Homo sapiens: one gene and its partners. The protein of the gene in region 4 purifies or fractionates together with the protein of the main gene of each other region. This does not show direct contact. Each region holds a gene or a part of one and is shown on either strand. Other genes may lie near its edges. The genes, in order: DCBLD2, SEMA4F, BTN2A2 and ITM2B.

Evidence for each region.
Region 1: the proteins of ITM2B (region 4) and DCBLD2 purify together in Homo sapiens (affinity purification with mass spectrometry; 3 studies listed by BioGRID and IntAct, with this or other methods). This does not show direct contact.
Region 2: the proteins of ITM2B (region 4) and SEMA4F purify together in Homo sapiens (affinity purification with mass spectrometry; 3 studies listed by BioGRID and IntAct, with this or other methods). This does not show direct contact.
Region 3: the proteins of ITM2B (region 4) and BTN2A2 purify together in Homo sapiens (affinity purification with mass spectrometry; 3 studies listed by BioGRID and IntAct, with this or other methods). This does not show direct contact.

What each region holds. Positions count from the first base shown.
Region 1 is NC_000003.12:98,898,678-98,906,260, forward strand, and holds the start of DCBLD2 (discoidin, CUB and LCCL domain-containing protein 2 precursor), read right to left. Parts: upstream 3,019-7,583; 5' UTR 2,650-3,018; coding exon 2,445-2,649; exon of another isoform or gene 1-2,444.
Region 2 is NC_000002.12:74,649,496-74,657,248, reverse strand, and holds the start of SEMA4F (semaphorin-4F isoform 1 precursor), read right to left. Parts: upstream 3,003-7,753; 5' UTR 2,873-3,002; coding exon 2,728-2,872; intron 716-2,727; coding exon 564-715; intron 1-563. UniProt on the Homo sapiens protein: Probable cell surface receptor that regulates oligodendroglial precursor cell migration. Might also regulate differentiation of oligodendroglial precursor cells. Has growth cone collapse activity against retinal ganglion-cell axons.
Region 3 is NC_000006.12:26,386,108-26,393,129, reverse strand, and holds part of BTN2A2 (butyrophilin subfamily 2 member A2 isoform a precursor), read right to left. Parts: intron 5,118-7,022; coding exon 4,836-5,117; intron 3,126-4,835; coding exon 2,919-3,125; coding exon of another isoform or gene 2,860-2,918; exon of another isoform or gene 2,444-2,859; coding exon 2,423-2,443; exon of another isoform or gene 2,328-2,422; coding exon 2,301-2,327; exon of another isoform or gene 985-2,300; coding exon of another isoform or gene 835-984; exon of another isoform or gene 756-834; coding exon 163-755; 3' UTR 1-162. UniProt on the Homo sapiens protein: Inhibits the proliferation of CD4 and CD8 T-cells activated by anti-CD3 antibodies, T-cell metabolism and IL2 and IFNG secretion.
Region 4 is NC_000013.11:48,229,300-48,236,219, reverse strand, and holds the start of ITM2B (integral membrane protein 2B), read right to left. Parts: upstream 3,015-6,920; 5' UTR 2,860-3,014; coding exon 2,743-2,859; intron 1-2,742. UniProt on the Homo sapiens protein: Plays a regulatory role in the processing of the amyloid-beta A4 precursor protein (APP) and acts as an inhibitor of the amyloid-beta peptide aggregation and fibrils deposition. Plays a role in the induction of neurite outgrowth.

The DNA of each region.
Region 1 (7,583 bases), on a different chromosome or scaffold from region 4:
TTTTCAGGTTATGTGAGGGAATATCAGTAGACCCTAAAGAACATCTGTTAGACTGGGAAGACTGGCTTAAAAGGAATTCCACCACGGGCTGCTTTAGGGTCCTTTGAGTAAAAAATTTAATTTTTAAAAATGAGAAAATTCAAATCTCAAATAATTGTGAGTTTTCAGATGATGTATACCTAATTAGCTCTTAATTTATCAACTTAGTAAGATCGAGATTAGTAATAATCATTTATAGCTATTTTAAGCTTTTCCCTTTGCAAAATTCCTGCATACTATCATTTCATTTATATTAAGCTATGAGATAGGTATGCATGCTCACCTTAATGATGTAGAAAACTGAGGTACAAAGAGATTAAATATTAAATGATTTAGCAAAATTTACCCAAGCAATTTAGAAGAACTAAAAAAAAAAAAAGTCTTTTAATTATCAGAATCATTTCTATTTATGTTGATGTTTACATAAGATGACACTGTTAAAGAGAAATGTATTTGTTAAAATGTTCTGGTAAAAAAAAATTATATTAAACCTTAAAAAATGAAGTAATGTTGCTTGTCTGATTAGACTGGCTATTTCTTTTTCTTTTTTTTTTTTTTTTTTTGAGACAGTCTCGCTCTGTCGCCAGGCTGGAGTGCAGTGGCGCGATCGCTGCAACCTCCGCCTCCCGGGTTCAAGCGATTCCCCTGCCTCAGCCTCCTGAGTACCTGGGACTACAGGCATGTGCCACCATGCCCGGCTAATTTTTTGTATTTTAGGAGAGACGGGGTTTCACCATGTTGGTCAGGATGGTCTCGATCTCCTGACCTCGTGATCTGCCCGCCTCAGCCTCCCAAAGTGCTCGGATTACAGGTGTGAGCCACCGCGCCCGGTAGACTGGCCTTTTCTAAAAACAAGGCAATCCCTCATTTGGAAGGTAGACATGTAACTGATTCTATACTGTTCCAAGATTTTTTTTAATAACATGATACAAACACTATCAGATCCAGAAACAAGCAAAGCAGAGTACTCTGCCTATGGAGTAATATGCCCTCCTGCATCAAGGTACCTTATATTCTTTGTGTCTCAATGTCCTTACGTTTGAACTGGGATAACAATAACTATCTCAGCTGATTGTAGTGAAGATTCAAGGAGTTAATAAACCCAAACCACTTAGTCCAGTTGTTCCAGCCACAAAGTAAGCCCTAAGTGTTAGCCATATATAAGCCTGTTTTCCCCCCTACCAGGAGGGAAATACATCTCTACAGTGGAAAGAAGGATTTCACACTTTAATATATTAAATGATGATGATGTTCAGTAATTTTAGAAGACGATCTAACTAAAACCTAAATGCTAAGCATCTAAATTTTGAGTTACTCTATATAGAAACGTGTCTAGATGTAAGGGGTCAGTTTGCCAAATACATTTTTTCCTTATAGTTACAGAGATTATATTTCCACATGCCTGTCAAGGTTCGGCATCTTCTTAATGACAGGCCATGATTCCATACTTCACTGAAAACCATGAGAGCAACATAAAGCTGGGCTTAAAGGCAGAGAACAATTTTCTTTTTAAAAAACTCTCTTCCTAGCAATAAGTAACAATCCAATCCTTATCCTTCCCACTGCAATAAAATGGAAAATGCAATGGAAATATCTTTTCAAAAACTGATGCCAAACTGATTCAAAAAGTGTGGTACACTACGGGAAAACAGTACTAAAGGGGAAAAGAAATCACCCTGCATTCTCCTTCCATTATGATAAGTATTTAATAAACAGTTTTGCCTGTTTCTGGAACAGGTTTTTCAAGGATTGTAGGTGGAAAAAAAAAAAAGTTTTGTCACTTTCTGGAAAGGCTTACCTTTTTAATGTGGAGAGCTTCACTTGGGCAAATTAGCATAGCGTTGGGTCAGACCCAGTGTTTGACCAAGGCAGTCTAGACCACCAGCCTCAATGATGGATTGTAAAGAACATGTTCTGAATCCAAGACTCAGAGATAAGCAGAAACTATTCCATTCGCTTCAGAACCCGGGCTCTTTCACAAAGGATCATAATTACCACCACTTACCTTTAATAGGCTTAAGATGCTATTTAATTAACCTGCCTTCCTACAGTGTCCATCCATCCGTGCAGCTTAACTTTAGGGGTCATTACCTCCAAAGGTTCTTTTTCCTCCCCAAAATTTTCCCCAGAAGGACCTAATATCAACGAGGCTTTCATAGCAGGGTCTCACGTCCCCCTTTCAGAAAAATAAATGGCCTTGCCAAAAAGTAAAGCCGCGCCAACTTGGGGGACAGACGGGCAAGACCTTGCCTTTGCAACTCAACCCCGTGAGTACCCAGCCAGGTCCGGCCACGCACGAAAGCGCACCGCGCCTCCCTGCAGCGTCTGCAGATTTGTTCAGGGGCCAAGAGACCCGCAGCCCCGACGGAGGTTCCCCCGCCGCTCACTCCCCTGGGACCACTCACCTTGCTGGGCTCCAGCGTCCTCGAGCAGCAGGAGCAGGACAAGTAAGAGCAGGAGGAACAGAGGCATGGAGAAGGAGGAGGAGTTGGAGCAGGGAGGGAGGGAGCGGGAGAGGGGGAGCGCGGCCCAGGCGGGGGCGGCGGCCGCGGCCCGGACTTGGGGACACTGCGGGCAGCGCCTGGCTCTCACCACCGCCCGGCTCGCCATCGCGGCGGCCGGCAGTCTGCCTGCATAGTGCGGGTGCCTCGGCAGCCCCGCGCGCCTCTGGCCGCGGCACCCGACCAGGAGACGGCGGCAGCGGCGGGAGAACAAGAGGCAGCCCTCGCCTCACCCCGCGCCGGGACCCTTCCGCCCCTCACCCCGCTTTCACCTACTCCTCCTTCGTCCCTTCCCTCCGCTCCCCGCGCCGAGACCCCAGGCCGGAGCGCAGGGGAGGGGAGGGAAGGAAGCGGAGTCCTCGAGCCGCGGAGGACGGCCGCGGCGGAGCTAAGGAACGTGCCTCCCGCGCCGCGCTCCTCACCAGGGTCGCCGCTCGCCGCGCTCACCCGCGGCTCCGGCTAGCTGGCAGGCAGGCCCGCAGCCAGCTCCCTCGCGCTCCCTCTCGCGCGCGCCGGCCACGCCCCCTAGGCACCGCGGCCAATCCTCGGCCAGCTCTGGTCCGTCTCCTTCCGCGAAACCCAATCAGCATGCTCGCTCCTCGCTCGACCCGCTAGTTCTCCGGCCCATTCCTCGAGCTCCACCGCCCCTTACCTCCCTCTTCCAATCCCCTTCGGCCTTTGGAGGCGTCCCACCCGCCTCCTCCAATCCAGGTCCCGCCCTCCAGCTTCGGATCCCCGCGGCCCCCGCCCGGCCCGGGCGCCTGTTATTGTTGGGCCCTCAGCCCAAACTGATCCCGCAGAGGCGGCAGCCAGCTCGTCAGTGACTTCCGGGACGTCCCCCATCCCGCGCTCCCTGCTCCTCAGGCCCAGCTTGCTCCTTGCTCCTTTCTCCTCGCTCCTCCGACGCACATCAGACCACTGGAAGGGGGTGGGAAACCTGGATCCTGGGTTGTTTTAGCTGGGAGCTGAGTCTAAGGGACTTTTTTTTTTTTTTTAATGGCAGAGCGTGGCTTGTTTTGTTAAAACTGCCGCCAGTTGTTGCAACAGCTCCGAGTTAGAATAATAGATGCAGTGTTCAGTTTTTAATATATGTGTTCCCTGTTTTCTCTGCTCTTTTTATGGCGGGGGGTGGGGGACAAAAAAGTGTAAAACAAGATCCGTGCCGCAAAGGCAATTTAAACCTAACATCCCAACCTTCATGCAGCCATTCTACAAGGAGTTGTTGAGCACCTGCTGTCTATCTACAGAAATCTTGAAATGTGGAACAGAGATGGAAATATAGCATGCAAGTCAGAATGAAGTAAGTGCTAATTAGAGTCACAAGCAGTTTGATGGAGACTGTAAGCCTATGGAACGACAAAAAGAATTTTAGGAAAGAGGAATGCAGAGGTCTACGCAGTGATTTATTTTAGAAGAGAGTGGCCATGTAGGATGTTTTTAACAGCAGTCCCTGAAAGGACAATGGTGTCATTAGCAAATACAAAAAACTGCTAAGGTGGAACAAGTTGTGTGGGAAAGTAAGTTAATTTTGGACGTATTGAATTTGAGATGCCAACTTAGATAATAAGTGAAGCTATGTAACAGGCAGATGGATATTTTAGTCGAAAGCTCAGATTGAGAGCTTTGAAATTATGGCTCTGGGAGTCATACATAGCCATACATGTATACATATACATATGTATACATAGTCATACATAGATGTGATATTCAAAAACATGGAAGGGACTGATATCCTTCAATGAAAGTCTAAGTTGGAAAGGACTTTGGAGGTCGTATGTTTCAACTCCCCTGCATATTTCTTATACAATAATCTCTTTAACCAAATTTATTCAATTAACATTTATTAAATGCCTAAGAAACCCTATTATGCTCTAAGCCATTGTGGGCATTGGGCATAAAAAGTTTACTGAGAAGAACTTACATTCTGGAGGAGGAGGTGACATGTAAACAAACCTATTGTTATTAGTGCCCTGTTAGAGGTGTGGACTGGTGCCACAATACCACAGTGAACGGAGTTCAAAAAAACCCGTCAGTTTGAAATGCCAGTGTCTTGAATAAGAAACTAAAGTGAAAAAGGTGATCTCAGGCCAGAGGCAAAATAGGCTGGGTCACAGGCTCAATAGGGAATGGTGTTGATGGAGCTGGATTGACTACTGCTGACGTAATGGGAGGAACTGGAGACTAGTCTGGAAAAGTTAGGAGGGGCAAGATGTAAGGCAAGCTAAGAGTCAAGATTTTATTTTGTATCACTGGAAAATAACTAAAGGGTTCTAAGAAAGAATGACATTGTCAGTTTTTTTTTTGTTTTTGTTTTTGTTTTTGTTTTTTTTGAGATGGAGTTTTGCTCTTGTTGCCCAGGCTGGAGTGCAATGGCATGATCTCGGCTCACTGCAACCTCTGCCTCCCGGGTTCAAGCGATTCTCCTGCCTCAGTCTCCCTAGTAGCTGGGATTACAGGCATGTGCCACCGCACCCGGCTAATTTTGTATTTTTAGTAGAGCCGGGGTTTCTCCATTGTTGGTCAGGCTGGTCTCGAACTCCCGACCTCAGGTGATCCACCCGCCTCAGCCTCCCAAAGTGCTGGGATAACGGCGTGAGCCATCGCGCCCGGTCATTATCAGGTTTTTATTGTAAAAACCCCAATCAGCCAGTAGGGTGAGGAATACATTGGTGTAAGAGCAAGACTGGAAGCCAGGGAGAGCCAGTCTGCAGTTAAAGGGAGTGATGGTGAGTTTTTAGTGCATTAAAAGTGGGCTTGGGAAGGCGGGACCAACTAGGGGAATATTTTTAAACTTGGTGACTGATTATGTGGAGTGTAAGGAGTTGAGGAAGTCTCCAGGTTTCTGGTAGAAGGTGATGTCTTTCCCACAGTAAGGAGTACAAGAAGGAGAATTGGTTTGGTTGGATAAAGAAGTAGAAGTTAAAAATCATAAATTCAGAATTGAACCTATCAGACATGATGTGCTAATGTGGCAAGCAGTCAGTCATGAAATAAGATTTCTAGTAGTAGTGCCTGAGACAACCTATTTCATGTGGAATCACTCCTTTCATAGGACCATTGAAAGAGAAGCTTGAGGTCACAGATGTGGTGGCAGAGCAAGGTAGTGTGAATCTTAGCCTGGCATTCTATTGACTACATAGAACTGTGGCAGAGGCAGAGAATTCACCTAAGAACTAGCACAGTTATGGAGCATTTCTGGAAGAGGCAAAATTTGGTCTCTAGCAACCCCTACCCCTTTAATATAGCAGGAAAAGATCCCGACTACATACGTGTAAAGCAAGAGGAAGGAGCACTTACATTTCTCATCACTGTTTTACTTACTGTCTAGTGTTTTAAAGTTGTTAAAAGTAGAGACTAGAGAGGTGAAGAGGTTCTGAATTAGGTCACTGGCAGGGAAAAAGAGAGGGAGGTGGGAGCAAGTTGGAGTTATATTTAAAGCAGCAAAATCAGAAGGTCTTAGTGACTGATGCCATTTGACTATTTCTGTGTTATTTTATGCCTCAGCTTCCGGAGTTTCGCTTTGGAAGACAGGGTCTGGAAGTCTGGCTAGAGAACATTTGTGGTGCCCCCTATTGCTTTATGTATATAGAAAATTACAAATATAGCACAGATGTGGGAGAGGATTGATGCTGTTGCACCCATATTCTCTCTTCTGATTATTGTCTCTCTACTTAGTTGCCAAACAATGACAGAAGGCTGCTCTGAAATGATCAAAATTTTCTCCTGGGACCTCACACCAAAGGAATATAATAGGCATTCATTTCTAAGACAATGCGGGTAAAGTGGAATTCTAGTTTATATTACCTTTCTTATTCTCTGCATGCTGCTCTAGACAACTTTGTCATGATCCTTGCTTCTGGGGACTTGGTTTGTTTGGGGAATGACATCTTATGAGGCAGTGGGAGCAATACTTGTCCAGGACCATTTTACCCATGCAACCCAGATGCATAACCCAGGGGCAGAACTGGGGATTCTAATCAAGTCTCAAAGTGGATAGGTTTGGAGAGGGCCATCATTGTAGCACATAGAGGCTCCAAGAAGCTACAGTTCCTCCACAAGGCAAGCCCAGGTTCTGGCTTCTTTTTACAGGGTTTCAAAAGTGTGTATTATTTTATTGTATTTCTGGTTGTTTACTCTACATTAAGATATTTAAAAATAAAAATAGATTCTCAACCTAAATTTTAATTTTTTATCTCTCTTCCTCTTTTTCTCATTCTTTATTTCATGTTTCTTAATCAGTAAAGAATGGAAGAATAGGCCGGGCGCGGTAGCTTACACCTGTAATCCCAGCACTTTGGGAGGCCGAAGCGGGCGGATCACGAGGTCAGGAGATCGAGACCATCCTGGCTAACACAGTGAAACCCTGTCTCTACTAAAAATACAAAAAATTAGCCGGGCATGGTGGCGGGCGCCTGTAGTCCCAGCTACTCGGGAGGCTGAGGCAGGAGAATGGCGTGAACTCGTGAGGCGGAGCTTGCAGTGAGCCGAGATTGCTCCACTGCACTCCAGCCTGGGTGACAGAGCAAGACTCCCTCTCAAAAAAAAAAAAAAAAAAAAAGACCGGGTGCAGTGGCTCATGCCTGTAATCCCAGCACTTTGGGAGGCTGAGGCGGGCAGATCACGAGGTCAGGAGATCGAGACTATCCTGGCTAACACCGTGAAACCCCGTCTCTACTTAAAATACAAAAAATTAGCCGGGTGTGGTGGTGGCGGGTGCCTGTAGTCCCAGCTACTCGGGAGGCCGAGGCAGGAGAATGGCATGAACCCAGGAGGTGGAGCTTGCAGTGAGCCGAGATGCACCACTGCACTCCAGCCTGGGTGACAGAGTGAAACTCCGTCTCATTAAAAAAAAAAAAAAATGGAAGAATGAAGAAAATCAAATTAATCTATAGGGAAAAGGGGAAATATAAAAAGAATAGTTACATTTTACTATTCCTACTTTCAAATGAATCCAAGCTCAGCCAACTGCTAAGGAAATTAGAATGTAGGAAAAGAACCTGGGGGCTGGTGCCTTTGTTTCTGTCTGTGCAGAAACATCTGGGT
Region 2 (7,753 bases), on a different chromosome or scaffold from region 4:
TTATCTGAAATGCTTGTGATCAAAAGTGTTTTACATTTCAGATTTTTTCAGGTTTGGGGATATTCGCAGAATACATACTGGTTGAGCATCCCTAATTTGAAAATCCAAAATCCAAAATGCTCCAATGAGCATTTCCTTTGAGTGCCATGTTGGCACACAAAAAGCTTCAGATTTTGGAGTATTTTGAATTTTGGATTTTTAGATTAGGGATGCTCAAACTGTATAGTTCTAATAATGGTCAAAAAAAAGTTTGAAAGCTGTTTCCCTAGAGTATTGTAATTTTAATGATCCCTCTGCCCATTGTCACCTGAAACCTGGTCACTGTGGTCTCCTCCCCATCATCATGAACCTCCTTCATATCCTCCCCAGTCACCCTGACCCGCCATACTCTTAGCTAAGAAAACAAAGTGGATGATCTCCCCCCATGTCTCCCAACTCACCCCCTCCTACTACCCCTGCTGTTACATCTTTAGTTATTATGAAATCCCCCACACACACTCATAAAATCATAGATTTAATCACATGCTACAGGGTCAGGGGTCCTTCCCTCTCTTGTCTCTCACCCTGCGGGGTCTCTCCCCTGAGAAGGGCAGGGATAAAGCGAAGATGGTGTCCCGGGCGCCAACATAAAGTGTGTGGGAGGCAGGATCCACAAGGAGAACAGAGTAATTGTATGTGTGAGGGACTGCGAACCGGGTGAGACAGGAGTCAGCCTCTGGCAGGAAGAGAGGAGAGTGATGTTAGCCATCGCTTCCTAAGGGTCAAGTCCACAAGAGCAAAACCAAAGGGGCCAATTTTTGTTTTCTTCCAAGTACCATTTATTAAGCAGCCATGGGGGAGAAACACAGCCTTGACAAGTGAACCAGAGATAGATGAGGCCAGAATATTTAGCACACAATCCAGTGGGTAAGTATGCTTTTTCTATAAAAATAGAGCACTAGCTGGACACGGTTGCTCACGCCTGTAATCCCAGCACTTTGGGAGGCTGAGGTGGGTGGATCACTTGAGGTCAGGAGTTTGAGACCAGCCTGGCCAACATGGTGAAATCCCGTCTCTACTAAAAATACAAAAAATTAGCCAGGCAAGGTGGCGCGCACCTGTAATCCCAGCTATTTGGGAGGCTGAGGCAGGAGAATTGCTTGAACCTGGGAGGCAGAGGTTGCAGTGAGCCAAGATCACACCACTGCACACCAGCCTGGGTGACAGAGCAAGACTCCGCTTCAAAAAAAAAAAAAATCTAAACCTCATATTAGCATTCAAAATTCGTATCTATTTAAAGACTGGAATAAGTTGGCATGAATTTACCTTCCTAGCTCAACCTCTGGTTCTGGGGACCCTACCCTTGCACCAATACAGCTCTGCTCTACCTGCTTCCTCTGCTCAGTACCCTCAAGACTGCAGACTGGACACCAACCCATTCATTCCTAGATGTACTGATGAGTCCCGCCCACTCCTTCCTCCCACACCCATACTTACCTCTGTGCCCACTCTCTCATGCTTAGTATAAGCCCTGGATCACCTAACTTCCCCTCACATCCTCAACTCTGCTTCACCTTGCTTGCCATCTAGACATCTCTGGATGCCTGGACATCAACCCAGCCTGGCAATCTCAACTTACTTTGTGGCTATTGCTTGGGTGCAAACTGAAACCCCAGGCTCTGGCCACAACTTCGCCTTCTGGAATCACAGCATCCCTATATGGCACTAGTCTGAATTTAAACTCTAAACTACTATTAACCAGTCCAGAGTTGTTGCCAACAGGTTGTACTCTTGGCTTCACTGGTTCTGTCTGCCCAAGGTGCTAATAACACTCAATGCCCACTGAGAAGACAACAAGGTCCACGGCCATGCTCATACCCACCTCAGCAGAGTCTAAAATGTGAATCGCCCCAATGATCACTTTTAACCTTGTGACGTCTCCTAGCTTCTTCCACATCTTTTCAAAGGATCATATCCCCCTCCTCTATTTTTCCTTCTGAAGACTTGAAAAATCATTTAAGCAGAACTTTACATCAACACATTGAATGGTTTACCAATATTCAATGTAGGGAATGGGCAGAGGCAGCGAGGAACACTGAGGAAGTTAAGAGAGTTAACGTGGATCCAATAATGGGAGAATGGGAGCTGCTGTCAGAGATGTCAGGGGAGCGGGAAGGGCTGTCAGAAGGGCCAAGAGGCTCGGATGATGTATAGAACTGATAGGGAAATGAATTGGAGAAGATGGAAATGCTGACCTGGAGATCGGAATGGAAAGCTGGAGTAGAATGAAAGACTGATGGGTCTGAAAGCAGAGTGGGCGTCAAGCTGGAATGATGGACCCAGGTGTATGTGCGGGGAAACAGGGGACTAAGGGAGACGGAACTTCGAAATGAACGACCTCGGGCAGCCCCCACCCGAGCTCTGGGCCTCAGTGTCCGAGTCTGCACGGTGAGGACTGGACGCTCCTGCGGCTCCGGGAATAGGGCCCGCTGGTGCAGCCTGGGCGTGTCGTGGGAGCCGAGGCGCGAGGCCCGGGCTGGGGATGAGGGGCTGAGGGGCGCGGGAGGGATGCAGAGAGGATGCGGTGAAGTGCGAAGATCTCGCCCCGGTCCCGGCGGGGCGTGGGCGGCGTGAAACGCCATACACCAGGCTGAGAGGCCCGGGTCCGGCCGAGCGGTCTGAGGAGCAGGTGGGTGTGGGTGTGGGTGTGGGCGCGAAGGGCTGAGGGCGTGGGCGTCCGCGCCTTACCAGAGATTGGAAGCGAGGTTCTGGGCACCGAGCGGGGGACGCGGCCGGATACCGGGCCGCTCAGCACCGCCAGCAGCAGTAGCGGGAAGGGCGAGGCTGTAGGCTGCCCGGGACCCGGGCGGGGCCGCGCAGCAGAGGCCGGCATCTTTGGCTCCGCCTGGCCGCGGGTGCGGCGCAAGCTACGGCCTCTGCTCAGGGCCCCGGGGCTACTGGCCTCGGCCCCACTCGGGTCCTCTCGGCTCGGTCCGGCTCAGCCTGAGGCTGAGGGATGAAACACCGCCCGGCTCCGCCCCCTCAGAAAGGGGCCAATGGTCGGGCCTCCTTCTTCCTCCAGCCAATCGGGATTGAGTGAAGGCGGGGCTGAGGGGAGGAGAGGCCTAACCCAGGCAGAGGCGGAGCTAGACCCAGGTGAAGGTGGGAGTTCTGCCTCGGAAGTGCGCTGGGGCTGCCACTCAGGGACCTCGAGTGGCGAGTTTGCTCCGGCCACTCCAAAAACTCAAACGCCCATAGCTGTACTAATAAGGAAAACTTACTAATAAGAGGACGTGGATACACGCACCAAGTTTCTCAAAATTAATACTTTGCAAGCATTTAAGGACGGCTGCCTATGTGCTGGGCAGGCACAGTGTAACGCGCGCGCGCACACACACACGCACACACACACACACACACACACACACGATTATACAGAAAATACTAAAAATCACGGCCCTTGCCCTAGGGAGTTCACACTGTAATGGGGCTTCCAAATGTAAGCAAATAACTGCAAATAGATAATTGCAATACGAAGCAATGCACGTTTGCTATAATAACGTGCAATAAGTGTGCAGAAGGGCCAGGTTTTGCCAGAGGAAATCAGGAAGGCCTCACAGAAGAGGTGACATTTGAACTGATTCTTCTAGGGTTGGTAGGCCTTTGAGGGCGAGGAACAAAGACTGCCTATGGGCATATCCACTTGGATATCCTATAAACAAGGCAAGCATAGGTCCTGAGGATAACTCACTATCTCCTCCATCCCAACCCTAGCTCCTTCTTTTTTTTTTTTTTTTTTTTTTTTTGAGACGGAGTTTCGCTCTGTCGCCCAGGCTGGAGCGCAGTGGCGCGATCTCGACTCACTGCAAGCTCCGCCTCCCGGGTTCACGCCATTCTCCTGCCTCAGCCTCCCAAGTAGCTGGGACTACAGGCGCGCGCCACCATGCCCGGCTAATTTTTGTATTTTTAGTAGAGACGGGGTTTCACCGTGTCAGCCAGGATGGTCTCGATCTCCTGACCTCGTGATCCGCCCGTCTCGGCCTCCCAAAGTGCTGGGATTACAGGCGTGAGCCACCGCGCCCGGCCCCTAGCTCCTTCTTCAAGCACTTAGTCTGCACTTAGTAGGTAGTCTTTGCTTTCTCCTCTTTCACCCCCATTGTATTAGTTATTTAGGCTGCAAAACAAATGTAACAAATTAACCTCAGAATTTGGTGGCTTAAAACAAACAAACAAAAGACATGGTCCCTGAATTCGAATTGCTTAGCCTGGAGGGAAAATCAGACATTTGGAATAAACTTTTATTATCTCTCACAATCTCTCTGCGTCAGAAATTTAGGAGTAGTTTAGCTAGGTGGTCTGGCTTCCAGTCTCTCACAAGATTACAGTCCAGATATCAAACGGGGCAGCAGTCCACTGAAGGCTTGCCTGGGGCTGGAGGATCCACTTCCAAGATGGCGGACTTCCATGCCTGCCAAATTGGTAGTGGCTGTTGGCAGTAAGTGAAGGTTGTTCTCCACATGAATTTCTCCATGGGGCTGCTTGAATGTCTTCACAAAATGGGGTGACTTCCTCAGAGCAAGTGATCCAAAAGAACAAGGCAAAAGAGCAAATGATATATTTGTGACCTAGCCTCAGAAGTAACACACAATCTCTCGGCCATATTCTACTTGTCACACAGGGCAGCCCTGATGCACTGTGGAAGGGGACTTCACCAGGTGGTACAGGGATTTCACTGGGAATACAAGGATTTCAGCCTCCTTTCTTGGAGACTAGCTACCATGCCCATATGTAAGAAATCACTATGTCCTTATAAATCTGACTAAAAAGTAACTTAAATCCATCCTTTTCTTTCCATTATCATCATAGTTCAGGACATCATCATCATTCACCTGGACTGTGTGATAATTTCATTTAAAAAACAAAAACCTAGCCTCCAGTCCCTCCCCTTCCAGACTGCCATCAGGATAATCTTTCTAAAGTGCAAGTACTAGTTCTAGTTTGTTCTTTCAACAGTTATTAAGGGCCTAATATGTGCCAGGCATTTTACTAAGTACTAGAGATAAGATTAAGACATGGTCCGTTGGCTGGGCATGGTGGCTCATGCCTGTAATCCTAGCACTTTGGGAGGCTGAGGCAGGAGGATCACTTGAAGACGAGTTCGAGACCAGCCACGTCAACATAGCAAGACCCTGTCTCTGCAAAATAATAATAATAGCAAGGCCTGGTGGCACACACCTGTAGTCTCAGCTACTTGGGAGACTGAAGCAGGAGGATCACTTGAGCCCAGGAGTTCAAGGCTGCAGGGAGCTACGATCACACCATTGCACTCTAGCCTGCCAAAAAAAAAAAGCCATTGTCCTTGAATTCAAATTGCTTAGCCTAGAGGGAAAATCAGGCATTTGGGATCAGTACTTCTAATCTTCTCTCTGAAATCTTCTTTCTAAAACCAACCTCAACACAATGGAACCCCTGCCCCCCGTCTGAGTTTCTTCCTCTAGCCCACTATATGCCTTTCCTAAGCTGCTTCTCAGCAGTCTAGTCTAGGCCTTAGTCCCTTCTCTGAACATGACTTATTGGTTGTCTTTTGATTTTTTTAATATTTTTTCAATTTTTTTCACAAAACATACAATAAGAGGTTCTTATTGTGCAACCTAATTGCACTTAAGTACATGCATTCATGTACCCAATGTACATATTAGTGAGTTAAATTTTTAACAAAGTCATACTTACATTATATTTATCTTTACTTCAGGAGCTAAATTCTCATTTTTTTCCCTATCATGTTGCATTTTATTCTATTCCATTTTTTTAAATGCTGGTTGCAGCCCACTAAATTGATTTTACTATTCATTAATGAGTTGAGATCCCCACTTTGAAAAAAAAAATCACTGTTCTATGTAGTCTCATTCATACTAATTTAGTTAATAATGATTTTCTAAATCTACATTTCTAGGCCATATCTTTCTCTTCAGCTTCTGACACACACATCCAAGTGCCTAGTGGACATTTCCACACAGTGTAACCACAGGCACCTTGATTTCAATATGTCCAAAACTGAACTATCGTCCCCACCCTCATAGCATCCTGGTAATTGTGTGGATGCTAAAACCAATGTTCCCCATAGCACTACTGTCTTTCCAGCTGTCTAAGCCAGAGACTTTGCATTTGTTTATTCAATAAGTATTCATTGAATGCCTACTATGTTCTAGGCCCTGTCATTTTGGATTCCTCTTAATCAAATCAATCATAAAGGCCTGTTAATTTTAACTCCTAAATACTTCCTCCCACATCTCCGCATCCCCTCTGCCAATACCCTAATTCAAACAACTATCTTCTCTTGCCTGGGCTCCTTCCTACTCTTGTCTTGTCCCTATGCCCTGCTGCCACCACCCCAATTTCAGCCCCCAATCCATTCCTTTTAAGGCAGGGAGGCAGGGAGAATGTTCTCTCCAGTACACAAATCAGATCATGTCACTCTTCTGCTTAAACACTTCAGTTTATCTCCCCATTCCAGCCCACCCCGCCTTTGCTATGAGATAAGATCCGAAATCTTTAATATAGTCCACAGATCGTATATGTTCTGGCCCTTTGCCTATCTCTCCTGCTTCATCTTTGACACTCCTCTTCCACATACTATACTCCATACTGGAGTATAGTTCAGCAAGACTGTTGGGGAATCATCAAGCCAATGTTGCCCATTAGAGGAGTGCTGTGTGAGGAGTGCTGTGTGAGAAGTGCAGTGTTTCCCAGGAATGGGTCTGCCTTAGTATCTCCACCACATTCAGTCAGTGGCTGGGAAGATGGCCTCCATGCAAATGTGGCAGATTTCTTTTTTCTTTCTTTTTTTTTTTTTGAGACAGAGTTTTTGCTCTTGTTGCCCAGGCTGGAATGCAGTGGTGCAATCTTGGCTCACCGCAACCTCTGCCTCCCGGGTTCAAGTGTTTCTCCTGCCTCAGCCTTCCGAGTAGCTGGGATTACAGGCATGCACCACCATGCCCGGCTAATTTTGGATTTTTAGTAGAGATGGGGTTTCTCCATGTTGGTCAGGCTGGTCTCGAACTCCTGACCTCAGGTGATCCACCCGCCTCGGCCTCCCAAAGTGCTGGGATTACAGGCGTGAACCACGGAGCCCAGTCGTGGCAGTAGATTTCTAAGGCAGCAGCTGATGCCCTTGGTCAGTTACACTCCTTGTAGTTTAAAGTCTGCAAGGTGCTTTCTCATGACCATTATAGTTTATCACCCTCAGAAAACAATTCTTATGTCATAGTCCCCATTTCTGGTACAGTTCTTTGCATATTTTTAATAAATGCTATAGAGGGTACGGAAAGAAATTAATAGTAGGTAGGAGCAATGGGTGGTATGGTTTGGAGTGAGGCTAGTGCTCAAGTTTGAATGCGTCCCCCAAAGTTCATTTGCTGGAAACTTAGTACCCAATGGAATAGTGTTCAGAGGTGGGGCCTAACAAGAGGTGATTAGGCCATAAGGGCTCTGCCCCCATAAATGAATTAATGTCATTATCTTGGAAATGAGTTAGTTATTGAGAGAGTGGGTTTGTTGTAAAAGTGAGTTCAGCTCCCTATTGCTGTCTTGCTCTTTTGTACCCCTTGCCCTTCTGCCTTCTGCCATGGGATGACACAGAAAAAATGCCCTCACTAGATGTGGGATTCTCAACCTTGGAATTCCTACCCTCCAGAATTTAAGAATACATTTCCTTTATTTACAAGTTAGTTGTTCTGTGGTATTCTGGTATAGCAACACAAAGGGGAGTAAGACA
Region 3 (7,022 bases), on a different chromosome or scaffold from region 4:
AACTGGGGCAGAGGGCTGGAGTGGGTGTGAAAAAGGCAGCTGGAAGATGTTCTCTTACGTGACCAGAGGGGAGGAGGGCGTGTCTTTCATTAGGGGGGTTGTGCGGTGGCTGCTGAGATGGCCAGGGCTTATCTGCATGGCTGTGAGTCCAAGGAATTGATTCTATAGGCTCTGGTGGGTCCCCACTCTGTGAAGTTTCAGGCCCTCTTCAGGCACCATGACCCCACTGGCTCCTGTGAGTGCAGGGCAGATGAAGATGGGGCTGTCATCAGACCCTAACCTGAAGAAGGGCCTCACAGGCACAGTAAAGGCTGAACGGGGACATGTGTAGATGTGCGATCTGTCCCTCATGTTGTAGAAGGAGACATCTCCAGCTTCATAGTCCAGGAAGACGCCCACCCGGCAAAGGGACTCCTTCAAAGGGAGAATCCTCTCAGGGGAGGACAGGGCCCGGTATTGGTTTCCAAACATCTCCAGGGTCCAGAAGCCATTCTGAGGAATCAGCAGGACCTCCCCTTTCCTCTCAACACTGTGTCTGCAGACCCCCACAGTCCACACCATCACGTTTTCCACCTCCACCTCCCAGTAATGTTTCCCTGAGGCGAAGCTCTCCCATCCCAGGACACAAGGCTGACTGTCGAATCTCTCTGGGTTGTCAGGCACTCTCTGCCTGTAGGGGCCCCGCCTCACACTTCTCCGGTCCTCTGACAGGAAGAGCTCGGGATGAGCGGTGTCTGGATCCAGGACCACATCAGCTGCAGAGGAAGTCTCAGGTTTATGCCTGGGGTCTCAGGAACCCTGGGGATTGTGTGGTTCCTGGTCCCCAGAGAAGTCTCAGAAAGCTGAAGGGGGTTCCCCATGTAGTGGCCGTTTCCATGAAGGTCCCCTGATCCCAGGCAGCTCATACCCTGAGAATTACGGAAGCTGCACTTCTATCTCTCCAGAGACAGAAGCAGTGCCCCCAGGTTGAGAAGAATTGTGGCTCTATGAAATCCAGAGAGTTTAGGAAATGAGCCAAAATTAATGGTTCCCAGTTTTTCTCAGCATTCTAAGATCTGATCCCTTTTCTATTCAAGATATATGATCTCTGGGACTTTCTTTAGTTAGAAACTTTCCAACTTGGCTTAAACCATCACAGAAGCTTTATCTCCTATTGTTCCCCCACATACCTCTCAATGGATCAATTAAGTGAGTCTATCATTACACACTGTCCTAGGTGGTGAAGGACCTCTTCGTTGGTCCTATAGGTTGTTTTAATAGGTGACAACTGATTTAAGTGGCTGACAAGGGCACACTTCAAAGGATAAAGAAGGAGAATAAATGTGTGCAAAAGAAAACCTGGTGCCTGAGGGATGTGTGGGCAAAGTTAGGGAAGAAATACTTCAATCCAGTTTTGCTTTAACAATATGAGTCTGACATCTACCAGGATTACTTCTCCCATACAGGAAAAGCCCCAGGAGCTGAGCATTCTGCAAACCTCTACCTTCTGCATGTATTCTTACTTATTCAGTCTACCTTTCTATTGCATTAAAATGATTTTCTCTTTTCCACAAGTTGATATGTCTGATTGTGACAAGTTGTGATTGTGTCCCAAAATGACAGTGGCAATTTTGAAACTCGCCAAAGAGGAAAGGTCCATGGGCCCTGGTATCTGGTAAAGTTTGGATTCTTTGGTGCTGACAGGCAGAGGTGCCGAATCACAAGATGAGAACTCACTGGAAGTGGGCGATTGGTTTCTCTGTGCTCTCCCACTCACCCTCCCACTCACCCAAACCCCTTCCCCTGGCAGACTACATGCAGAATATCAGTGCTCTCTTAGAGGCAGAAAGGTATTTCTGGCCACCTATTTGTACACCATTGCATCAGGCTTACTGGGGACCCTTATGGCCTTTTCCTCACATAGGTCTTCAACTGTGCACAGTCTATACCATTCCCAGGATATGAATTGCTAAGACAGCATTATCTTATTTCAAATTGATCCAGAATCAAAGAGCAATGACTTCTGAAATGTAACTCTTAGGAGGCTACTATGCATGGGAAACCTTTGATAATCATGCATTAAATTATTCCAAAAGAGAAAGGGTCCTGGGGATGTAAACTGCAGGGTTCATTAAGAGCTGCTGGGGTTCCCTGACAGAAGAGCCATGATGCATCATTGCTGGGACACCGTTGATGAACTGACCCCAGTTCCCTATGGTCCCTGTGTAGCCCTGGGCCCCTTGCTCATCTCCTCTAAGGAGTCCTGTTAGCTGGCTAGTGGGGAGAAAGCTGAGATCTGAGAGAACATCAGAGGCACTCACCAGCATGTAAGAATGTTCTTCTCCATCCTGCAAGGGACAGACAGAGGTGAATGTCACGAGACACTGCTAAGTAAGCAGAACACAAATTGTACACGGAGTAGTTCAGGAAAGGCTAAACTTACGCAATTCTTCTTGAAGTTGCTCTGAAAACAAAATACAGAAACAAAATCATGTCTTCAACAGAAGAACTAAGAGAAATTGAGCTTGTATTAAACAACGTAGGAACCATCCTTTCTATGAACACCAACATCACCCTTCGTTTATGCCTAAGGAACAGTCAGAAACCAGCAATGATGTATGATCAGATGGCTGGGTAGTATCAGTACATTGTTAGACTTTTGTCTGAACTTTCGTTCAGCCATGTAGTGCTGCATATAGCCAGGTGAATGAATGTAATGTGTGCAGCATGGAAGAAAGAAAGCTCTGAATGATTACTTCTTATGACATGAGAGTTCCAAGCCCTTGTGGCTGCTGCTGTGCATTTCCTCTCTCTCTTCCCTAAGCCGGTACCTGTGAGAGCTGTGGCCTTTCTATGACAGTCAATTGTCCTCCTACTCATTTAACTTTTCTTTTTGAATTTCTTTCTATTTTTCCACACTTTCTTTACAAATTCCTTACGTGCAATTTCTTTTTCCTCTTGTTCAACTTTCTTTTCCCCTGACAGAATCTTTTTTTCCCTTTGAAGTTTCTTGATGCAACAGATGCTGACAGCCATGAAGATGATGAAAACAGCCAGGATGACAGTCATGGACACCATCCAGGGAGATGCGGTCAGGATGACAGCTAGGGCCACCATCCAGGGAGATGCGCTGGGCATAAAGGATTCTGAAAAGGCAGCCAGAAAAGTCCATTTAGTTTGAAATAGAACATCTGGATGAGAGTGCCCCTAAGAGCACATCTGAAGAGCTCCTCAGCCACCTGTTCTGTTGGCTTCTCCCTCAGAAACCTTAGATGGAGAAAGCGATGCTGGCTCAACACTGGCTGACACCTCAGTGACTGCCAGGGCCGGGCCCAGAAGGGGGCAAAGCAGAAACATCTGGAGTCACCATGGAAAGGACCAGAGTGCATAAAACTAACCAGCCATGCTGAGTCAGCACAGCCATCACCCTGCCTCAAACCACCATCACTCACGCCTGGAATACTAGAGTGCCCTCCTTCTTGTTCTGCTCTATTCTGTAATCTACTCTCAGCAGAGCAGCCCAAGTGAGATCATGTTAATTATTTGCTCAAAACCTTCCAATGCTTCCCACTCACTCACTCTAAAAGCCAAAGCCTGTTTGTGGCCTGTGCTGCCATATATAACGTAGTTGCATCACTCTGTGAATTCATCTCCCCCTACTTCCTGAACTCACTCCATTTCAGCCACACCAGCATCACCTCCTGGGAGTCCTGGAAACTGCCAGACAAGCTCCTTCCTCAGGCCTTTTGCATATGCTCTTCCTGTACCTTGGCTGCTCAGTCCTTAAGCATCTGATGGTTCCTTGTCTTGATTGCTCAATTTCCATCTTTACAGTGAAGTCTTCCCTGACCACCTTGTTAATAATTCTGATGCCTCACACCCCTGGAACTCTCTATTTTCTCTTTGCTTAATTTTTCCTACATGCTCGTCACCATGTGATAGAATATATAGATTATTATTTATTTAATCACTTGTTTCAATTATTTCATATATTGCTGTCTCTCTCTCGCGCTCCCTTTTTTTCTTTTTCTTTTTTAAGACAGAGTCTCACTCTGTTGCCCAGGCTGGAGTGCAGTGGCACGATCTTGACGCAAGCTCTGCCGCCTGGGTTCAAGCAATTCTCCTGCCTCAGCCTCCCAAGCAGCGGGGATTACAGGCGCCTGCTACCGCACTCGGCTAATTTTTGTAGTTTTGGTAGAGATGGTGTTTCACCATCTTGGCCAGGCTGGTCCTGAACTCCCGAACTCATGATCCAACCACCTTGGCCTCCCAAAGTGCTGGGATTGCAGGTGTGAGCCACCGTGCCCGGCCGCTGTCTCTCTCTAGAATATGAACTCCTTGAGGAGAGAAATTTTGATATATTTTGTTCAATTATTGACCCTTGGTTTCCTGTACAGTCTTAAACATAAGAAATGCTTGTTGAACATTTGTTGAATACATTTATGAATGTCTCTTGATAGGGAATTTCCCCAGCTCTGTCCTTTGGGAAGTCCCATAGACAGGAAGGGATGGCTGCAACATACAGGAATGCCAAGCATAGACAGTCACCCACCCACACTACTCTCCAGGTTTGATGGTTGTCCTTAATATTTTACAACTGTTGCAGCATAAAGACCTAATCAAGAAAAAAAAGACCAGGTTTACCCTCAGAGAAGAGGCTCCTACTCTTGTGTTTTGGGACTCTTTGAATCTCCCTTTGTGAGGAGGGGAGACGTCTCAACTCAGCTGCAGCCTCCAGCTCCTCAGGGCCCAGGACCATTCCACCCACACTGCTGCCCCCATTCCCGCTCTGGGCTCCATCTGGGTGCTGAGGATCCTGCATACACTTGATAGGTCTCAGAGGGCAGAGAACTAACCTGGAATAAAAATGACAGTTTCCTTCTCCTGGCCGAGCAGGGTGTTGTTGACAGAGCAGGACACATTCCTCACATACTTGTCTCTGATGATCACAGCTGTGGTGACCATGAAGAGGCCGTCAGCATCAGCGATGGAAACCTCCTTCAGGGCGGGCACAACCTCACCGTAGGGGTCCCTCCACACTGTGAGGGGCTCTGGGTACCACCCTCCAGATATGCACTCCAGCCAGATGCTCCCATCCTCTTGGGCCTTGATTTCAATGAGGGGCTTAGACCCAAGGCCTGGAAAGGGAGACCAGGGCTCAGCCAAAAGGCAGTGGTATCTTAGCCCCTACTGCACCTTGATGGATGGTTGCTAGAAAGACCCTTGGTTTTGGAGAACATCAGGAAACCAATATGCAAAATAAATTGTGAGATCTCAAAGAGAAAGGATCACATTGCACACTTTTCTTTATGCTCCACCTGAAGGCCCCATCACAGCACCAAGCATCTATCTGTCTGCTATAAATGCTTGCTGTGCAATTTATTCTGGCAAAGACTAATTTTCTCACTTCCAGGAGGGTGTGTCCAAATTCTCAACAGGCAGGTTGAGAATTTCACTTTCTGCTCCTGGGATGACTTCTCTGCAGACCTCAATTTCCTGAAGCTCTAAAATAATACACTAATGACAGAAACCTATCAGGTTGGCAGAAGCTTTTTTTCCTTTCTTTCTTTTTTTTTTTTTTTTGTAGAGATGGGGTTTTGCCATGTTGCCCAGGCTGGTCTCAAACTCCTGAGCTAAGGCAATTCACCTGTCTTGACCTCCCAAAGTGCTGGGATTACAGGCATGGGCCACTATGCTCAGCCTTGGCTAAATCTTAAGAAACTTTTTGAACCAAAGTCACTGACACTTCTGTCTAGTTCAGGGCCTCACATCACCATGGCTATCTACCTCCATAGGAGGTGATGGTTTTTAGGAGAATAGACAGAACTAGCTGGCAAAGCCAATTCTTATTCTAATTCACAGTTGTTTACCTCCCAGAGGTTCCATCCAATAGAGAATTTTCTTACAGTCCTTTAAGAACATCAATGTATTAGAAATATCTGGATGCCCCTGGGATCCTTAAGATAACCATATTGCCTCCTCAATGTCAGAGATCATCACCAAAAATCCTAATAATTCAGGCTCATCCTAAATATATTCTATCTTTACTAGAACCTTCAATGAAAGAGAATACCCAGAGTGAGAGAGCTGCAAAAGCATGGTCCTGGGAGACCCTTCAGCCATGCGTGATCATCCAAACTTCTCCTGAATAATTCCTTTGTAAAGTCTCCCAACAAATTATGTTAAAGAAAGAAAATTAAAGCAATCACTTAAGCCTAGTGCTTTCTGCTCTGTTTAATTTTTGTCAGGAGAAAAAAGCTAGTTGTGCATTTGAAGGCTCACACAGAAATCCTGAATTAGAAAAGAAATTAAAATACCTCAGCAAATTGGAAAACAAAGTCCTACAAAACATTCCATGGGTTCAATACGGGTAAGCATGACACAATAGATTTAAGGGAAAAATCAGCCACCAACCAATCCAACAAACAGAGTACAATAAGCAAGCAAACAAAAAGTCCTACAGCAACCCAATTCAGACTAGGGAAGGCCAGGACAGGGTTGGTTTTACAGAGAAAGAGTAGTGGGTCCCTGCCACATACAACCATTCATTACTGGGCAACATTGCAGTGCTGCTGTGAACACAGTCATGACAATGGGTCAAGAAGCCCTCCATCCACGATATTCTGTTTTAATCAGATGTAAGGTTGCCTTTGTGAGTAGCAAAGATAGGGTCTCCTACCTGTTATGATTTGGGGCCCCCTGGGAAGAACCCAATTTCCTAGTCCTTGCCTCCACTGGTCTGATGGACTGAAATGTCACCACGAATTATTCTGCAACTTAAAGGCTTTTTTCAGTCCTGAAATATACCTTTTAAAGCAAAATACACTAACTGCAACACTGAGGTAATCACTTAGTGTCACTTTTAACAAACTATTAGAAATCCCAGTTTAAGTGCATTTCTATGCTGAAGCCTTGCCAATTTCTTCCCAGCTAAATTCTTAGTCTTTCTCTGTGGAGTTAGCAGGAATTATAGATAACTTTGTTTCTGTATTTAGTTGTGCTTTAATAAAAATCATCTATTTATATAAAAGTCACTCTCTCTG
Region 4 (6,920 bases):
TCTCTATAGCTCTAAGAGCTTTATGCCTACTAGGAGAGGAGGAAGGTGAAAACAATTAAGGGGAAAATGCAGGAAAAGAATAAACAGCAAGCTAGTTGAGATAAAACTATCAATAGAAATGGCTGTTAGGATTAATAGCTGCTGAAAAGATAAGACTGAAAAATGGGGTAATAGAACTGTTTCTGGAGAGTTCTCACCCTGCAGAAGAAAAAAATAGAAAGACAGGAGCAATGTAAAAGTACTGGAATGCATGTTATATAAGCCAGCTGATTAGAGTGATCAGAATTCTTGTGGCATAAGGTAACAGAATCTGCATTTTAAAACCAGAGCAGGTGGTCCCTAAGAGCACATTTTGGAAAACAATGGTCTGCGGGATATTGTGATCTGGGAGGGTTAAAGATAAGAAAAATTCTTGTTCAGGAGTTCTAGGCCATTAACTAGCTTGGTTTGATTCTTTCAACCAACCAGGCAAAGGAAATGCCCTCGGCAAAACACATTAAGGCTGATTCTGTTCCCAGTCCAGGCAGTCAGACAAGGTGGCTGCCACAGAGCCACCCGCAAGGAGCCAGAGAACATTATGTAATCACTGCCCAAGCTCTGAAATGAAGAGATCAGAACTTCTTTCACAAAAGTCTGTCATTAAGGTTTTCCTTTTCCCGTTAAGCGACTGACTGATTATAAGGATTCTACTTTTAATGTAGAGAAATATTTTGTCATCCCCTAAAGAAGTCTTTCAGCTTATAGCTGGAAAAAGAATTAGTCATTTTTTATCTACCAACTCATCCGTGACTGCTGGGTGGTTTACAAAGACGACTCTGGCCCTCACTCTTTAGTCCCAGTAGTATTTTTCTTTGGATATGGAGGATCTGAGAAAATAAAAAATGGAAAACAAAGCACGGAGCTACCAATGATTACTTATAGCTGCAATGACCACAAAATTTAAATATGGTGAACTCGTGAGCAATTTTGAGAATCTGGCAGAGTCACTATTTCAGAAATGACAAAAATTGTCAGAAGTCAGATTTAATGGTGCTCAGCAAATGTAATTCTGATGTTTGTCCAGAGTTTCAAATCTCCACTACAGCGGAACAGAGAAAAGCTGTCTGAAGTGACATCATCCAATGCTCGCTCACTCTCTCCTTTCTAAATGGGAGCAGTTATATTTGTTAATAGGATTTTTAAATGTATGTGTGTATATATATATATGTGATAGCATTAAGACTACATATATTTGAGACTGTTGTGACTGGATACTTGACTCTCAATCTATTTTAGGTACAACGAATGTTAGATAAACAAAGAGCTAACATAATAATTTGCTACTGCAATTTTCATCTGTGCATTCCAAACATTTTCTTTAAAGACCAAGATTGTTTGCAATGGCTTCAGGAAAACAATACCAATACGAAAACCAAAACCTTTAATCCTTTTAGGGAATCAGTTCACTGTTCCTATTTCAAGGCAAGGCAAGTCATTTAGAAATCAACCTCTGACGTGTCTGTTTTTATCAGAACATTTCCAGAAAGTAAGATTACCATTATATTCTGAAGATAGATTATATTCAGAATATAATAAATTATAATATGATGTCTAGATTACCATTATATTGTGAATTTTTTACAGTATATTAGTGGCCTGTTTTTCAGCAATAATTTTCATTCGTCCATATAAAAACTCCCATTATTCATACGTGGCACACCAATTTTTTTAAGTTAAAACTAAATTTACCCTACTGATAATAGGTCTTGAAAAATGCTAACAACAACAAAAAATAAGATAAGCAACATAACTTTACAGTTAATTTCTAATTTTTGCAGCCTAAAAAGGGTCTGGGTAAGAGGCTGTGGGCTTTTTTAACTTATGAGACAATTACACTCATATTTAAGTAAATATGATCGTAACCTACTAAAAGTCAACACAGTAACAGCCCCACTTCATGAATTTTCCTAGGATTAAAGGGAGATTTTGTAAAATAAAGGAGAATTTTATTAGGGACCCGGGGGCAAATTTCTCATGTTTAGTTTCACGCAGCAGGAGTCCTCACAAAGACGCTGATACAATTTAAATGCCAACAATTGGTTTTTCACTAACATCCACATAGTCATTACTGGCCTTTACTAGTAATGGTAAGAGACAGCCCAAACCTACTTCGGGCGGACTGTCCCTTCGTCCCCTCTCCAGGTGAAGTTCACCTGCCACTACCGAAGGGCCGTGGAAAAAGGAGGTAAAGAAACGCTTTTAAAATTAAGACGCTTACAGTTGCTGGACTTAGTCCAAGTGCTGTTCAAGCCTAGAAACGAAAGTGGGAAACAACAGAGGTTTAGGCTTGTAATGATGTCAGCCATTTTAGGTACATTATTTATACTGGGAAGGAAGTGCCAAACTCGGTTGTTGTTGTTGTGCCTGTCGCTGCCGGTCCCCAGATCGAACAAGCCAAGTCCTGGCTGCACGCACGCTCCCCGGACTGCACAAACGACCGGGAATTCGGCACAATTAGCCAATCGTTCCCTCTCCAGGCCTCCCAAGCCCCCGACCCCGCGTCAGGCACCGCTTCCAGCACACGCACTTCCTTACAAAGGAGCTGCGGACCCACAGGAAACGGGAGCGCCGGGCTCTCTCGGGGACTTGTCCCCGCGGCGCGAGCCCCGCGCCCGCCACCTCGGGGCGCACTGCCGCTGCAGTCCGCGCAGCCCTCCCCGGCCGGGCCCAGCACCCGCTTCCTCGACCTCCCCGGGCTCGGACCTTGCAGTCCACCGCGACGGCGTCGGGGGGGATGATGAGCGCCTCCTCGCCGCTCTTGGGCTCGTCCTTCTTGGCCTCCTTCTGGGCCAGAGCGGAGTTGAACGTCACCTTCACCATGGCGCGGCCTGGGGCGCCCTCGAAGGGCGGCGGCGGGCTCGGGGCGCGGGCTGCGGGCTCCCGGCTGCGATTGCAGCCTCTACGGCCGGGCTCCGGGAGCGGCTCCGGGCGGCTGAAGAGGTTCGGGAAGCTCCGCGGCGGCAGAGGCGGCTACTGCGGTAGGGATCTCGCAGCCTCCCAGCTCCCGCGCGAGGGCGGAGACTGCTCGCACATCCCCTGGGAGGCGGGGCGGGGGCGGGGGCGGGGCCAGCGGCCGGGGGTGGGGTGCTGCGCGGGACCCTGCCCTCGCCCCGCAGCTGGGCGCCGGATCCCGGCGCGCCTCGGAGAGGGATGGGTGTCCCTCTGGGCCGCCTGGAATTTCCAGTTCTGAATTCGCTCCCAACCAGGTTACCTCCAGGCCGAGTGCTGCAGGTTTGTAGCGAAATCGAGTGAACTTTCCTGAGTTCGCCGGGTACAAGGGACTAACCTTTGGCAGCACCAGACCGCCGCTTCCCTGTACCCTGTCCCCACCGCGAGCCTAAAGGCCATGGAATTTTTGTGCATCCACATCTTCATTTTCTCACTTATTAGGTAACCGACTCAGTGGAGCACAAACATGTTTAAAGCTCTCTGTCCTTGAGATCTGACTTTATCTTTCACGGACCTCACCCAAGGGCGTTTACCTGGCTCAGACCTGCCTGGTCTTCCTTCCCTCTCTCAGGAGGTCAGGGCCTGTTCTGCCTAGTCCCAGACCAATGTGGAGGAAGCTCTTGGCAGATTTGTATTTCAAACATCTCACACTCGTAAAACGAAATGTTCCACTCTTGTGCGTACTTGGAAAAAAACCACATGCACACTTGGCTGATTTGTGACTCAAAGTACTCGATGACGAGTCCCTTTATTTTTCTGCAAAATGAAAAAATAATTAAGGATAACGCAAAATTCTCATGTTTTGAAGACGTTTCATTTACAACTAATGCGAGGTAGAATACTGGCTCCCGTCGTTACTGCGTTCATTACTGTGTCAACAGACGGCCCCCTTGGACAAATGTGTTATCTTGTATCCTTCCACCCCATTCTGTCCTGGTTCATCCAGAGTTGTGGGTGTGCTCTAGAATGTTACAGCTGTGTCAGCTCTGCCTTGGGCCAACCCTGAAAAAAGTGGGTTCAGTCTGAGATCTTTGGGGATTTGGCCCTGCTCAAGGAGGGAGTTGGGTATTTCCATAGAATGTCAGATCATAAGTCCCAGGGAAACAGCCCAAGATCTCCAAATCCTTCTGTTCATGTATTTCAGAAGCATCCTGGGCTGAGATAGAAACCCAGGCCAGACTTTGAGTTTGCTTTGGGTATTCAGAAATTCCTGTCAAAATGAAATCTGCTCAACCAAGAGGAGGATGAGTTAGGTTCCAGTTCTGGTGAGTTTTAACAGTAGCTAACCATACTTGCAGCAACTTATTTAAACTCCTGGGTCGCCCTTGTGCAGGCATCGGCTCTGTGAGGTTGACTCTATGGACTGGACTTTCATAGTATCTAATGTTATCTAATTCCTCAAAGTCAACGACTGCTTCCAGCTCCCTAGTTTAATAGGTTCCCTGAGACATTACAGTTGAAGACTAAGTATTTCTGGAAGCAAGATCTGGAGGATTATAAATAATTATATGTACATCCTTCCTACTTCGTTCTGTGTTAAAATAAGATGGTAGAAAAATACTCAAGGCATTTTGCAGTAGATGATAGAGAAGAATCTGGCTGTCATTATACTCCGGGGGGAAAAAAGGAATTACAGAAGAAAATAAAACAAAATTCTTCGTGAACAACACTACTGAACAGACTAGGAAGCTGAGGCAAAGGATGAACAAATGAGGTTGACAAAACTAGAAATCCTCCCCGCCCCAGGATTTCTATTTTGAAAGACTCATGAATAAAAGACCATTCATTATTTTGTGTACTTGCAGTGAGCAACAGTTTAAAATCAGTTGGCAACCGGTCTGGGAATAATCTCCTGGTTTTTTTTCTCCATTTTATCTCATGTGTCTACAGAACTGTGTAGTGCACAACAGCAGGGATAATAAAGACGCTGGAGCAAGACCAAACATAGCAAATCCAGTCTTGTGATTTAGAAAAGGTTGCCCGTTGACCCTGAAAACTTAGGAGCCAGGGAGGAGGAGAGTCCATGACTCAACAAAAGAAAGTTAAAAACATAGTTATAAGTTACTATTAACTACCAAATGTAAAGGGAGTCTTAGAGGACCTTTGTTTTCCTTTTTGACGTTGAGTTTGAGAGAGCAAGATGAATCTGATTCCAGCTCTGCATATCACCAGCAACCATGTTTGTTTTTATGCTTACCAAAGGAGGGAGGAAAAAATGGAAGTGGGGAACTGAATTCTAAAATATTTTAATAGATTTGCATTATGTGCTTCAACAGGGATTTTTTTTTTCTTTTTAGGTTCTTTACATCTCTATTCTGTCTGTTCTTTCTCAAGGAAACAATTCCTTATTCAGAGAAATTTCTTGTGGTTTTACAGAATGATTGGAAAACTTTATTTTATTTTATTTTTCACAAGTATAGGGTCCTTGGTGAAACAACGTCACTGAATAAGCCCTTTGAAATGTGCTCCTGTTGCCTCTTCTCTTAACCCAATGTGTGAGTTTAGCTGGTCATCTTGTGGCTTTGTCTGAACTTTCATAAAAGAAGTGTTTCTTCTAGGTGAGAGCTTTGAAGGCTTTGACTGACCTCTTCAGAGACTTAAGCACTGTTTATTTTTCTTACCGACTTCCTATTTCAATATTATATATGCTTTTCAATTATTTTAATTTATTTTATATAAATTATTTTCATGTAATTTTAAAATAATTTATCATTATTTTCCTTGAACTAGCAGATGCATTTTTTTTTCTTTTTCAAATCTTGGGCTCTATAATATCCCGAGACCCTTTAGGAATTATCCTAATAACAAATGCAGATCTCTTTTGATTTGACTGGCTGTGGCACTTGGGATTTTTGTTTTGCTTTGTGAAAAGACTGGATATGCTCTGCACTGATGAAAGAGAGGGAGAAGCTGGGTGAGGTGGCTCATGCCTGTAATCCCAGCACTTTGGGAGGCCGAGGCAGGGAGATCACCTGAGGTCGGGTGTTCCAGACCAGCCTGACCAAAATGGAGAAACCCCGACTCTACTAAAAATGCAAAAAATTGACCGGGCGCGGTGGCTCACGCCTGCAATCCCAGCACTTTAGGAGGCCGAGGCGGGCGGATGACGAGGTCAGGAGATCGAGACCATCCTGGCTAACACGGTGAAACCCCGTCTCTACTAAAAAAAAAAAAAAAATACAAAAAATCAGCCGGGTGTGGTGGCGGGCGCCTGTAGTCCCAGCCACTCGTGAGGCTGAGGCAGGAGAATGGCGTGAACCCGGGAGGCGGAGCTTGCAGTGAGCCGAGATCACGCCACTGCATTCCAGTCTGGGCAACAGAGCCAGAATTCGTCTCAAAAAAAAGAAAAAAAAAATACAAAAATACAAAAAATTAGCCGGGCATGGTGGCACATGCCTGTAATTCCAGCTACTCGGAAGGCTGAGGTAGGAGAATTGCTTGAATCCAGGGGGCAGAGGTTTCGGTGAGCCGAGATTGCGCCATTGCACTCCAGCCTGGACAACAAGAGCGAAACTCTGTCTCAAAAAAAAAAAAAAAAAAAAAAAAAAAAAAAAAAAAAGAGAGAGAGAGAGAGAGAAAGGGAGGAAAAAGATGGAAAAGATGAGAAACACAAACCATAGAAAGAGTGAAATCAAAAGATGGGAAGACAAGCCACAGACTAGGAGAAAATATTTGCAAAACATGTATCTGATGAAAGACTTGAATCCAAAATACACAAATAACTCTTTAAACTCAACAATAACAAAACAAACCACCTCATTAAAAAATAGGCCACCAAGCTAAGTGCAGTGTCACAAGCCTATAGTCCCAGCTACTCAGGAAGCTGAGGCCAGAGGATTGCTTGAGTCCAGGAGTTCAAGGTTGCAGTGCGTTATGATCGTACCTATGAATAGTCACTGCACTCCAGCCTGGGCAATATAACAAGACCCCGT